Linked DNA regions of Homo sapiens: region 2 is linked to region 1. The links come from fine-mapping of genetic effects on gene expression. Tissue or cell type: whole blood. Region 1 holds a variant in brackets; the other region holds the start of a gene. All regions are shown on one strand. Distances are from middle to middle.

Region 1 (5,227 bases):
CAAGCTTTTTGCACAGATCACGTACTAGTTCTTGTACTTGACAAAGAATTCTTCTGCTTCAGTATATTGTCCAGAAGGGAGCTAAGAAAAAAGAAATAAATTAGTCACTAGTCCCTTATTTGTAAAAGAATGAACTTTTTAATTTTAACCACACATTGCAGAACTTCATACCAATAATCTCTGAATATATTAATAACTCAGAGATTAAGGAACTAGTCTGGTACTTCAATAATAGAGGCCTGATAGCTGGAAAAAGTAAGCCTTTATCCACTCTAAACAGGTAAGTAAAAGAAGCACCAGTAAAGCAGTTCCTGTTTTCTAGCTAACTTTCCTCCATCATCTCTCACAACTACACCTTAGCAATATATCTGACATCCAAAGGTGCTCATTAAATAAAGCCTGTGAACATAGCATTACGGGTTAATATTAAGATAGAGAAAAGCCAGGCGCAGTGGTGCACAATGGTAGTCCCAGATACTCAGGAGGCTGAGGCAGAAGAATAGCTCAAGCCCAGAAGTTCATAGTGTGCTACGATCATATCTATGAATAGCCACTGCACTTTAGCCTGGGTAACACAGTTAGACTCTATTTCAAAAATAAATAAATAAATAAATAAATAAATAAATAAATAAAAATAATAATAATAATAAAAAGCCCTCACCTCCTTCTTCACAATCCGCATAGAAAGCACTTTGTCTACAATGGCTGCATCTTCTTCACTGGGATTCTCCTGCAGCAAAAGATGCAGTCAGTCAACAGATGATTGTGACCAGCAAGGCAATCCTCTGAAATCATTTGAGTTTACAGCTTACCACAAAGAACTGCATGGAAGGCAAAGTCTCGCCATCTGGTTCTTGCACTGGTTCAGGGAGGATAGGCTCAGGTTTTATTGGACCAGTTACATCCACCTCTTCTTCTTCTTCATCATCTGTGATCTTTATATCCAGGTCCTCTGTATATTTTTTTCGCTTAACTTGGCGGTTTGAGCGTCTCTTCTGTAGAGCAAAAAGTAGTTAGAGTGACTAGTTAGGTCTCTCACAGAGAAGACTTTTAAAATTATTTGCTCATGGTCATATACTTAGATTCTACTCCAAAATTTTCATGAAAAATCAGACCAAAAGATGATAAGGAGATTATCTGTCAAACAATGTGATTATGCTATGTACTGACCATATATCAATTTGCTTAACTGCTTTATGAAAGGCCAAGAATCCACTGAGAAAAACCTGTCCACTAGTGGCAAGAAGCTCTGGGAAATCAAAACTGGATTCTCAGGCTGCAGGGTGCAATATAATTCACACTAGAAGCAACCCGTTAGTGCAAAAATGCAAGAAGATTTTGTTTCCATTTTTTGCTTTTTTGTCTTAGTTCTGAAGTTTTTTTTGTTTTAATAAACAGAATCTACTGTATGTACTATTCTGCCACTTACTTTTTTATTTAATGATATTTCCTGGAAATGTTTTCCATATATATTTTTTATTTACCTTATTCTTTCAAGTGGCTGAATTAAACATTTTCTAATTAAGTAATTTAAGCAACACTTCCAGCTCATGATAAAAAACTGGGAAGGAGGCTTGGTACAGTGGCTTATGCCTGTAATACCAGCACTGTGGGAGGCCGAGGCAGGCGGATCACCTGAGGTCGGGAGTTTGAGACCAGCCTGGCCAACATGGTGAAACCCCGTCTCTGCTAAAAATACAAAAATTAGCCAGGCCTTATTTTTCAATTATGATTATCTCTCTGGAAAACCTCAAAGGATCAAATGAAAGAACTACTGAAACTAGTAAACTTGAATGGTATAAAACTAATTTTTAAAAAATCAATAGCATTTCTACATATAATCAGCCAGAAAATATAATAAAAGATCCCATTTATGAAAACACAAAGATTAATTATCTACAAAACTAAATTGGCTGGGAGTGGTGGCTCACACCTGTAATCCTAGCACTTTGGGAGACCGAGGCAGGTGGATCACCTGAGGTCAAGAGTTTGAGACCAGCCTGGTCAACATGGTGAAGCTCTGCTAAAAATACAAAAATTAGCCGGGCCTGGTGGCGGATGCCTTTAGTCCCAGCTACTCAGGAGGCTGAGGCAGGAGAATGGCTTGAACCCGGGGGGTGGAGGTTGCAGTGAGCAAACTTCATTAGTATAAAATTAATTTTATACCAATACAAATATAATTTTATATTTAAAAATGTTATATTTTTGTTTCACCCAACAGACTGGCAAAAATCAGCAAGTTTGATCAAAATATTTTTAAGTAAGAATTCATACATTTTTGGTGAGAGTACATATAGGCACGACTTCCATGAAGAAAAATTTGGCAACACCCTTTGAACCTATCAATTCCACTTCAAAGATACTATCCTATAAATTTGCATATGTGCACAAATCTCTGGAGCATTACTTGTGGGAGTAGGAGACCAGAAAAAACCTAAAGGCCCATCAACAGGGGATTGGTTCAATAAATTATGCTATAGCCTTAAAACTGAATACTACAGAACTACTAAAAAAGAGTGCAGGCTGGGTGCAGTGGCTCACACCTGTAATCGTAGCACTTTGGGAGACTGAGGTGGCAGGATCACTCAAGCCCAGGTGTTCAAGACCAGCCTGGGCAACACAGTGAGACCCTGTCTCTATTTTATACAAAATATAAAAATAGCCGGGCACGGTGGCTCACGCCTGTAATCCCAGCACTTTGGGAGGCCGAGGCAGGCGCATCATGAGGTCAGGAGATTGAGACCATCCTGGCTAACACGGTGAAACCCTGTCTCTACTAAAAATACAAAAAATTAGCCAGGTGTGGTGGCGGGCGCCTGTAGTCCCCGCTACTCGGGAGGCTGAGGCAGGAGAATGGCGTGAACCTGGGAGGTGGAGCTTGCAGTGAGCCGAGATCGCGCCACTGCACTCCAGCCTGGGAGACACAGTGAGACTCTCT[CA/C]AAAAAAAAAAAAAATATATATATATATATAATATATATATATATACACACACACACACATATACACATTAAAAAGAATGGGGTAGATTTATAATACCAAATGTTGAAGATGTGTATCAACCAGAACTCTACTGGTGAAGTATAAAATAACATAATCACTTTAGAAAACTTAACAGATTCCTACAAAGTCACGTTTGTATATTCATAAAGTCAAATATTACTGAAGAAAAAAATAAACTACTCATTTATTTAGCATAGATGAACTATCAAAAACATTATGCCTTTCTCATTGATGTGTGGGCAGAAGAAAAAGAACAACAAAAAATTATGCTGAAAGAAGTGAGACCCAAAAGTACATACTGTATGATACTACTTAAAGTTCAAAGCCGGGCACGGTGGATCACGCCTGTAATCCCAGCACTTTGGAAGGCCAAGGCGGGCAGATCATTTGAGGTCAGGAGTTCAAGACCAGCCTGTCCAACATGGTGAAACACTGTCTCTACTAAAAATACAAAAAAATGAGATGGGCATGGTGGCGTGCACCTGTAATCCTAGCTACTAGGGAGGCTGAGGCATGAGGATCACTTGAATGCAGGAGGCGGAGGTTGCAGTGAGCCAAGATCACGCCACTGCACTCTAGCCTGGGTGAGAGTGAGACCCTGTCTCAAAAAATAAATAAAATAGCCAGGCGCGGTGGCCCACGCCTGTAATCCCAGCACTTTGGGAGGCCAAGGTGGGCATATCATGAGGTCAGGAGATCGAGACCATCCTGGCTAACACGGTGAAACCCCGTCTCCACTAAAAATATAAAAAAATTAGCTGGGCGTGGTGGCAGGCGCCTGCAGTACCAGCTACTCAGAAGGCTGAGGCAAGAGAATGGCATGAACCCAGGAGGCGGAGCTTGCAGGGAGCGGAGATCGCGCCACTGCACTCCAGTCCAGCCTGGGCGACACAGGGAGACTCCGTCTCAAAAAATAAATAAATAAATAAAGTTCAAAAATAGGCTAAGTTAATCTAAGGTAAGAGAGAGCAGAACAGCAGTTAGCTGCCTATGCCCTGGAGTGAGGAACTGGACTGACTACAAGGGAGTACAGGGGAACTTACTGGGGTGATGGAAACATTTTCTTCACTTGGTGAAGTAACTTCGATACATTTGTCAAAACTATACAAACAAAATTTGTGCATATTTTATGATATGTATATTCTACGTCATTTTAAAAAGTCTGGGAGGATATATAAACTAAATTATTTCTAGAGAATAACAATTTCTAGAAGATACTTTCTACTTTTTACTTAATATATTTCTGGATGACTTGATTTTTATCACATCCATCATATAGTATTCTTAAAATGACCTTTTTAAAAAAAAAATTTAGGAAACACTTTAAACAAGTACTTAGATTTGGTTTAAAATAATCCAGGGTGGGCCGGGAGCGGTGGCTCATGTCTGTAATCCTAGCGCTTCGGGAGGCCGAGGCGGGCAGACTGCCTGAGCTCAGGAGTTCAAGACCAGCCTGAGCAACATGGTGAAACCCCGTCTCTACTAAAAATATAAAAAATCACCTGGGTGTGGCAGCATGTGCCTGCAGTCTCAGCTACTCCGGAGGCTGAGGCAGAAGAATTGCTTGAACCCGGGAGGCAGAGGTTGCAGTGAGCTGATATCGTGCCACTGCACTCCAGCCTGGGCAAGACAGTGAGACTCTGTCTCCAAAATATAAAAATAAAAGAAAACAAAAAAAATAATCCTGGGTGCCGTACACTGGAGACCATGTCTAGGGACAGCAACTGCAGCCAGACCCTGAGCTGGGCCATCCCTGCCACTCACTGGGTGGTGCTGGGCAAAGGCATGCAGCTACAGGACAACCCCCCAGGGGCACAGTCTTCAGCACCACCCTGGGAGGTACCAGGATCATCTACGACTAGAAATTCCTGGAGTGTCGGAACTCACCCATGACCAAAACATCCCCGAGGGATCTGCCCACCATTCCTGGGGTCACCAGCCCTGCCAGTGATGAGCCCCCAAAAGAAGCCAGCCAGGGCCACCTGTGCAATGGCCCAGAAGGTAAGTAGTCGGGCCGTGAGGAATCACAATTTGAGATGGACATTTAAAGGACCAGCCATCAGATTGCGCATTGCCTATGGGCTCCTCCAGGCCTTTCTGGGAGGAATCACACCAGCTAGGCCTTATGAAAGTTATCACACTGGGCAGGTGTGGGACATGGGGTCGGCCACCCCAGCTTTCTCTCCTTCACTCAGGGCACCTGCCCTCTCCTCTTTGTGAAAACTAG
Region 2 (5,227 bases), 38 kb after region 1:
AAAATACAGAAATTACATTCCCTAAAAGGTTTCAGCTAAACAGAAGCAAAAGTGTACAACGTCAGTGAATTAAGTGAAAAGGAAAGTGAGCAAAATCACAGGAAGATGAAAAGATCACCAACTTGGTGAGACAAAAGAATAAAAGATCATAGATCATGTAAGAGGGGATATAAAAAGTTAAAGTGAGATAAGAAACATGATAGTCTGTCAATGAATCAAATGCTAAAGGTAAAATAGTAAATATTATACCACAATGGTCACAGTAATGTAAGGACAGGTCATGCGAAGACCTGCAGATCAAGGACTGGCTCAAATCCAACTCCAGAAGTAGAGAGATTCTAGAGGTGAAAGTGGAGACTCGAGAGAAATGTTTGTCTTCTGTTTTCCTCCCAAGTATTAGGCTCAATGTAAGCTCAGAAGATAGCTTAACTCTTCCAGAGCTGTAGACAAACAGTTCACTAAAGCATTTAGCATTCATCTGAATGTTACAGTCCTTTCACATATGAGAATATCAAATCTTATTTCTTCAGTAAGCAAACACAGTTTTGACACCCACAACTTAATCTTAAGTGGTAATTTTGCTTAGAAAAGTGGCTCATGCCTGTAATCCCAGCACTTCGGGAGGCCGAGGCGGGAGGATCACGAGGTCAGAAGTTCAAGACCAGCCTAGCCAATATGGTGAAACCCCGTCTCTACTAAAAATAAAAAAAAAAATTAGCCAAGCATGGTGGCGGGCGCCTGTAATCCCAGCTACTCGGAAGGCTCAGGCAGGAGAATTACTTGAACCTGGGAGGCGGAGGTTGCAGTGAGCCGAGATCCTGCCACTGCACTCCAGCCTGGGTGACAGAGCAAGACTCCGTCTCAAAAAAAAAGAAAAGAAAAGAAAAGAAAAGAAAAGAAAAGAAAAGAAAAGAAAAGAAAAGAAAACTGACAAAACCAAAAGAGCAGATGCACAGGACAGATCAAACATGGAGAATACAAAAACTGTTCAAGTACTCATACACTGTTCCATTATATCCCTTATCCCAATCCATTACTCCTTTGCTATCCTCTGGCTGTGTCGCCCAGGCCGGAATGCAGGGGCACGATCTTGGCTCACTGCAATCTCCACCTCCAGGGTTCAAGCGATTTTCATGCCTTGGCCTCCCATGTAGCTGGGACTACAGGCACGCGTCACCATGCCCGGCTAATTTTTTTTTGTATTTTTTGTACTTTTAGAGACGGGGTTTCACCATGTTGGTCAGGCTGGTCTCGAACTCCTGACTTCAAGTGATCCGTCCGCCTCCACCTCCCAAAGTGCTGAGATTACAAGCGTGAGCCACTATTTCAGTTTTAAACTTTCTCCTAAGCCTGTCTCTTCAAACTTGCCTACTCTCTCTTTGGCCAATATCTTTCACTTGCCTTCAGATCCACTGACACGCCTCTCTTGCAGCAGAAGGTCTTCTTACATGGAAAATGTTTTTCTTATCATAACTCTTTTTTTAAGGGTTGGGATAATTCCAAAGTACTTGAAATAAGTTTCTCATATCTTGCTCTATGAGGTTGACTAGAATTTGTTCTGAAACCTATTGGATGACCAATACAAAAGAAATTCCTAAGCAGAAGACACGATCTAATTAACTAACACAGGACACGATTCAAATCACAAACTCACTTTCGATATGTAATGTGCCCCACACCAGATGACTTCAGCATATGCTAACCTAGGCTGAGAATCCTTGACTGAGTCGACAAACTCAGAAAAGCATGGAGATGAAACGATCTGTAGACGCCGCTGTGATGGTAGGATGCAGCAGACACTGATAAGGCAGCTCCCCTGGCTTGTGTTTGGGGCGCTCCGCTGTTTATTCTTTAATAGAAAAAGACAGAGTTCTAAATCTTTGACTTCTGGCTCACTTTGCTTAGCCATACGAAAGAGATGGGTCCACTATATACCTTTTCTGTGAAGACCCTAACCGCTTCAAGACTGTCCCTTAAAAAGCAAGAGGCTGCTGCATTTATACAGCTGCTGCAGGGAAATTCCCTGCGACACTAGAGACAGGTAAATAAACTGCATTCGTTCCAAAGCAGGGGGAAGGGTCTTCTATCAGTGACGAGTTTACATAATGCAACGGAAAACCAGTGAGCTCTGCAGACCTGTCAAGGAGGATGCAAGGCTTGAGCTCCTCTCTTCCCACCATCTCTAAACATTCTCCAACAGCCTGCTCTTCACTGCCAGGAGACCCACAGAACTTACACCTGAGAATGAGTAACAATCTGCTTACGCTTACCCCATGCTTTCCTACCCACCTTTATTATTAAAATACAGAAGAAAAAAAAATAAAAAGAAGTAGAAAACCCTAACCACCTATTTCTGAATCCAAAGTATGGAGTAACCAAACGGGGCCGAGGAGTTTTCCCTTCTCTGAAGAGAGGAGAACAAGGCGCCGCCTCCAATCTACACTACGCCCAGTAATGCAATGACAAGCCCTGAAAACTCCACAGCGTCCCAAGCAGTCCCTCGCGGCTCGGCCCGGCTCGGACCCCGCGGCCCGGCAGCCACCCTCTCCCCCGGCCTCTCACAAAGGAGACTGGTTCAGTCCGGAGCATCACCCCGCACCTGATCCCTCACAACTGGGGGGCGAGCAGGGGGTGGAAGAGAGAGGAGAAGGAGTTACTTAAATCAAATCTCTGAGAGCCTCAGCTTTTGCTGACTCCTGGCCCAGCACTGAGGAGCGGGTGCGAGCGGGAAGCCTACCTGTGCAAGTCCTGGTACTTCCTTTCCAGGCAGCGTTTCAACTCACCCTCTCCGAGAACAAGGCGCCTTCCGGCGGAGCATGGCCAGCCCTCGCCTCAATCTAGCTTGCTAGTAGTCCATTCTCCCTAGGCTCCGCCCCCCTGCGCTCCCATCCGCCAATGGCAGCACCGAAGCCCGGCCTCTTCCAGCGAGCTAGTGTGAGCGCCATCCAGGAAGTCTCTTGAGGGTGGAAGGTCCTAGGAGGATGAGAAGGGTACGTAGGCGACCACAAATATGCCTGATTGAAAATAAAATCTGGCGGCGGCTCGCCTCTGACGACTCAGTTCACAGGCGGCCAGGCCCCTCGGCATCTTTTTTTGACCCCCGCCATTGGGGGCGCTGTGAACTAAAACAACACTTAGTTACCTACTTCTGGGAAGCCATCTTGGCTCGGACTCCGGGACTGGGTGAGAGTGCTTAAAGAATGTGAAGACCCTGTCGGTGTTCTGTCCGACTATCTAGGTCCAGCCCGAACATACTCTGCTGTATACACTTAGGAGGCCCCTCAGTCACGACGTGAAACCCTGGAGTAATGCCGTATGTGGTTACGGGCAACAACCACCACCACCCTCTCACTTAACTGTAGGAGTAAAGCAATTTTAACAAATCAAATAAGCAAAAATTAATTCTTCTAATGAGAGTGAAAGTTGCACTTTCCTAGGGTAATCCTTTATGGACACCTCACTCAAAATATCAGGACATGTATCTATTATAGGTGCTACTAAGCTTTAGGATTCACTGCAAATTTTCCAGTAGGGGCACTGTGAATCAGTTGGAAATCAAGAACAGGACTTAAGGAGGAATTCCTTTTTTTTTTTAAAGGCCTAATTTTTTTTTTTTTTTTTGAGATGGAGTCTCGCTCGGTCACCCAGGCTGGAGTGCAGTGGGGCGATCTCGGCTCACTGCAACCTCTGCCTCCCGGGTTCAAGCAATTCTCCTGTCTCAGCTTCCTGAGTAGCTGAGACTACAGGCTCCCGCCACCACGCCCAGCTAATTTTTGTATTTTTAGTAGAGACGGGGTTTCGCCATGTTGGTCAGGCTGGTTTCGAACTCCAGACCTCAAGTGATCCGCCCACCTCGGCCTCCCAAAGTGCTGGGATTACAGACATGAGCCACCATTCCTGGCCAAGAAATCTTTTTTAAAGTTGTGAGTGAGGGAATCCTTCCAGATTATTAAAGGAATTTCTCAAGGAGTAACATAATTGCATGGTCTTACATGATAGGAGCTCAGAGACATCAAGAAGTCATATGAGTGATAAGACTCGGCCTTAAGCTGGGCGCAGTGGCTCACGCCTGTAATCCCAGCACTTTGGGAGGCTGAGGCGGGTGGATCGCCTGAGGTCAGGAGTTCGAGAGCAGCCTGGCCAACATAGTGAAACCCCGTCTCTAGTAAAGATACAAAAAAAAATTAGCCGGGCGTGGTGGCAGACACCCATAATCCCAGCTACTCGGGAGGCTGAGGCAGGAGAATCGCTTGAACCCAGGAGGCGGAGGTTGTGGTGAGCCAAGATCTCACCACTGCACTCCAGCCTGGGCAACAAGAGCGAAATTCCATCTCAAAAAAAAAAAAAAAAAAAAAAAAAAAAAAAAAAAGACTTGGCCAAATACATTTCCCTGTGTATCAAAATCTGTCAGCCAAGACAGGCGCGGTAGCTCACGCCTGTAATCCCAGCACTTTGGGAGGCCGAGGCGGGTGGATCACCTAAGGTCCGGAGTTCAAGACCAGCCTGACCAACATGGAGAAACCCCGTCTCTACTAAAAATACAAAAGTAGCTGGGTGTGGTGGTGCATGCCTGTAACCCCAGCTACTCAGGAGGCTGAGGCAGGAAAATCACTTGAACTCGGGAGGCGGAGGTTGTGGTGAGCCTAGATCATGCCATTGCACTCCAGCCTGGGCAACAAGCGGGAAACTCTGTCTCAAAAAAAAAAAAAAAAAAAATCTGTCAACCAAATTCTCTCCTGGCTACTGCTGCCATTATATCAATTTGATGTTAGTATTAAGATTTATCAGAACAATGTGTTTGTCTGTAAATGCATATACAGATATAACCTTAATTATTAATAGTTTCTAGGATGAGAGCCTATTATCCATCTGGTACAGAATAGACCTGTCATCAAAGGAGCTATAGATATTATGGAAATGGGAACAGGTGTGCCTGAACCAATTTCTGGTACCTACACTGATCTTAGTATGATTTCCAATGGTCTTGGCCTTCAAAAACCAATGGACATTGGTAAGACTATAGATGGAAAAAAAAAAAAAGTGGACATTATTTCATAACTACCATTCTTCATATGGGGTGGCATATCCACTTTTTATAATTCTTCATGACCACTTCACTCAGAATACAGATGATTTTGCCCAGATACTTTTTTTTCTCATGCTTCCCTTACAATTGGTGCAATACCCAAGTACAGAAGGTCATAAGTCGGCTTGGTTAATAGAACAA

What was found. PIP is the estimated chance that this variant, and not a neighbour inherited with it, causes the effect.
Region 2: CHD8 starts here. The variant in region 1 is fine-mapped to the expression of CHD8 in whole blood (INTERVAL, PIP 0.91).

What each region holds. Positions count from the first base shown.
Region 1 is chr14:21,414,913-21,420,139 of GRCh38, forward strand. CHD8 (chromodomain helicase DNA binding protein 8) reads right to left here. Exons shown (of 38, transcript NM_001170629.2): 6 at 813-995; 7 at 662-730; 8 at 26-81. It also overlaps the pseudogene EIF4EBP1P1. Among named protein-coding and RNA genes, the nearest start is that of SNORD8, 20 kb to the left of the region's middle. The variant CA/C (reference allele first, on the strand shown) is at 2,939.
Region 2 is chr14:21,453,295-21,458,521 of GRCh38, forward strand. CHD8 (chromodomain helicase DNA binding protein 8) reads right to left here and starts at 2,829. Exons shown (of 38, transcript NM_001170629.2): 1 at 2,738-2,829. It overlaps LOC124903283 (a long non-coding RNA gene), which reads left to right and starts at 3,103. Exons shown (of 2, transcript XR_007064064.1): 1 at 3,103-3,183. RefSeq lists enhancers at 2,572-3,261, 3,126-3,677, 3,292-3,341, 3,352-3,401, 3,678-4,229.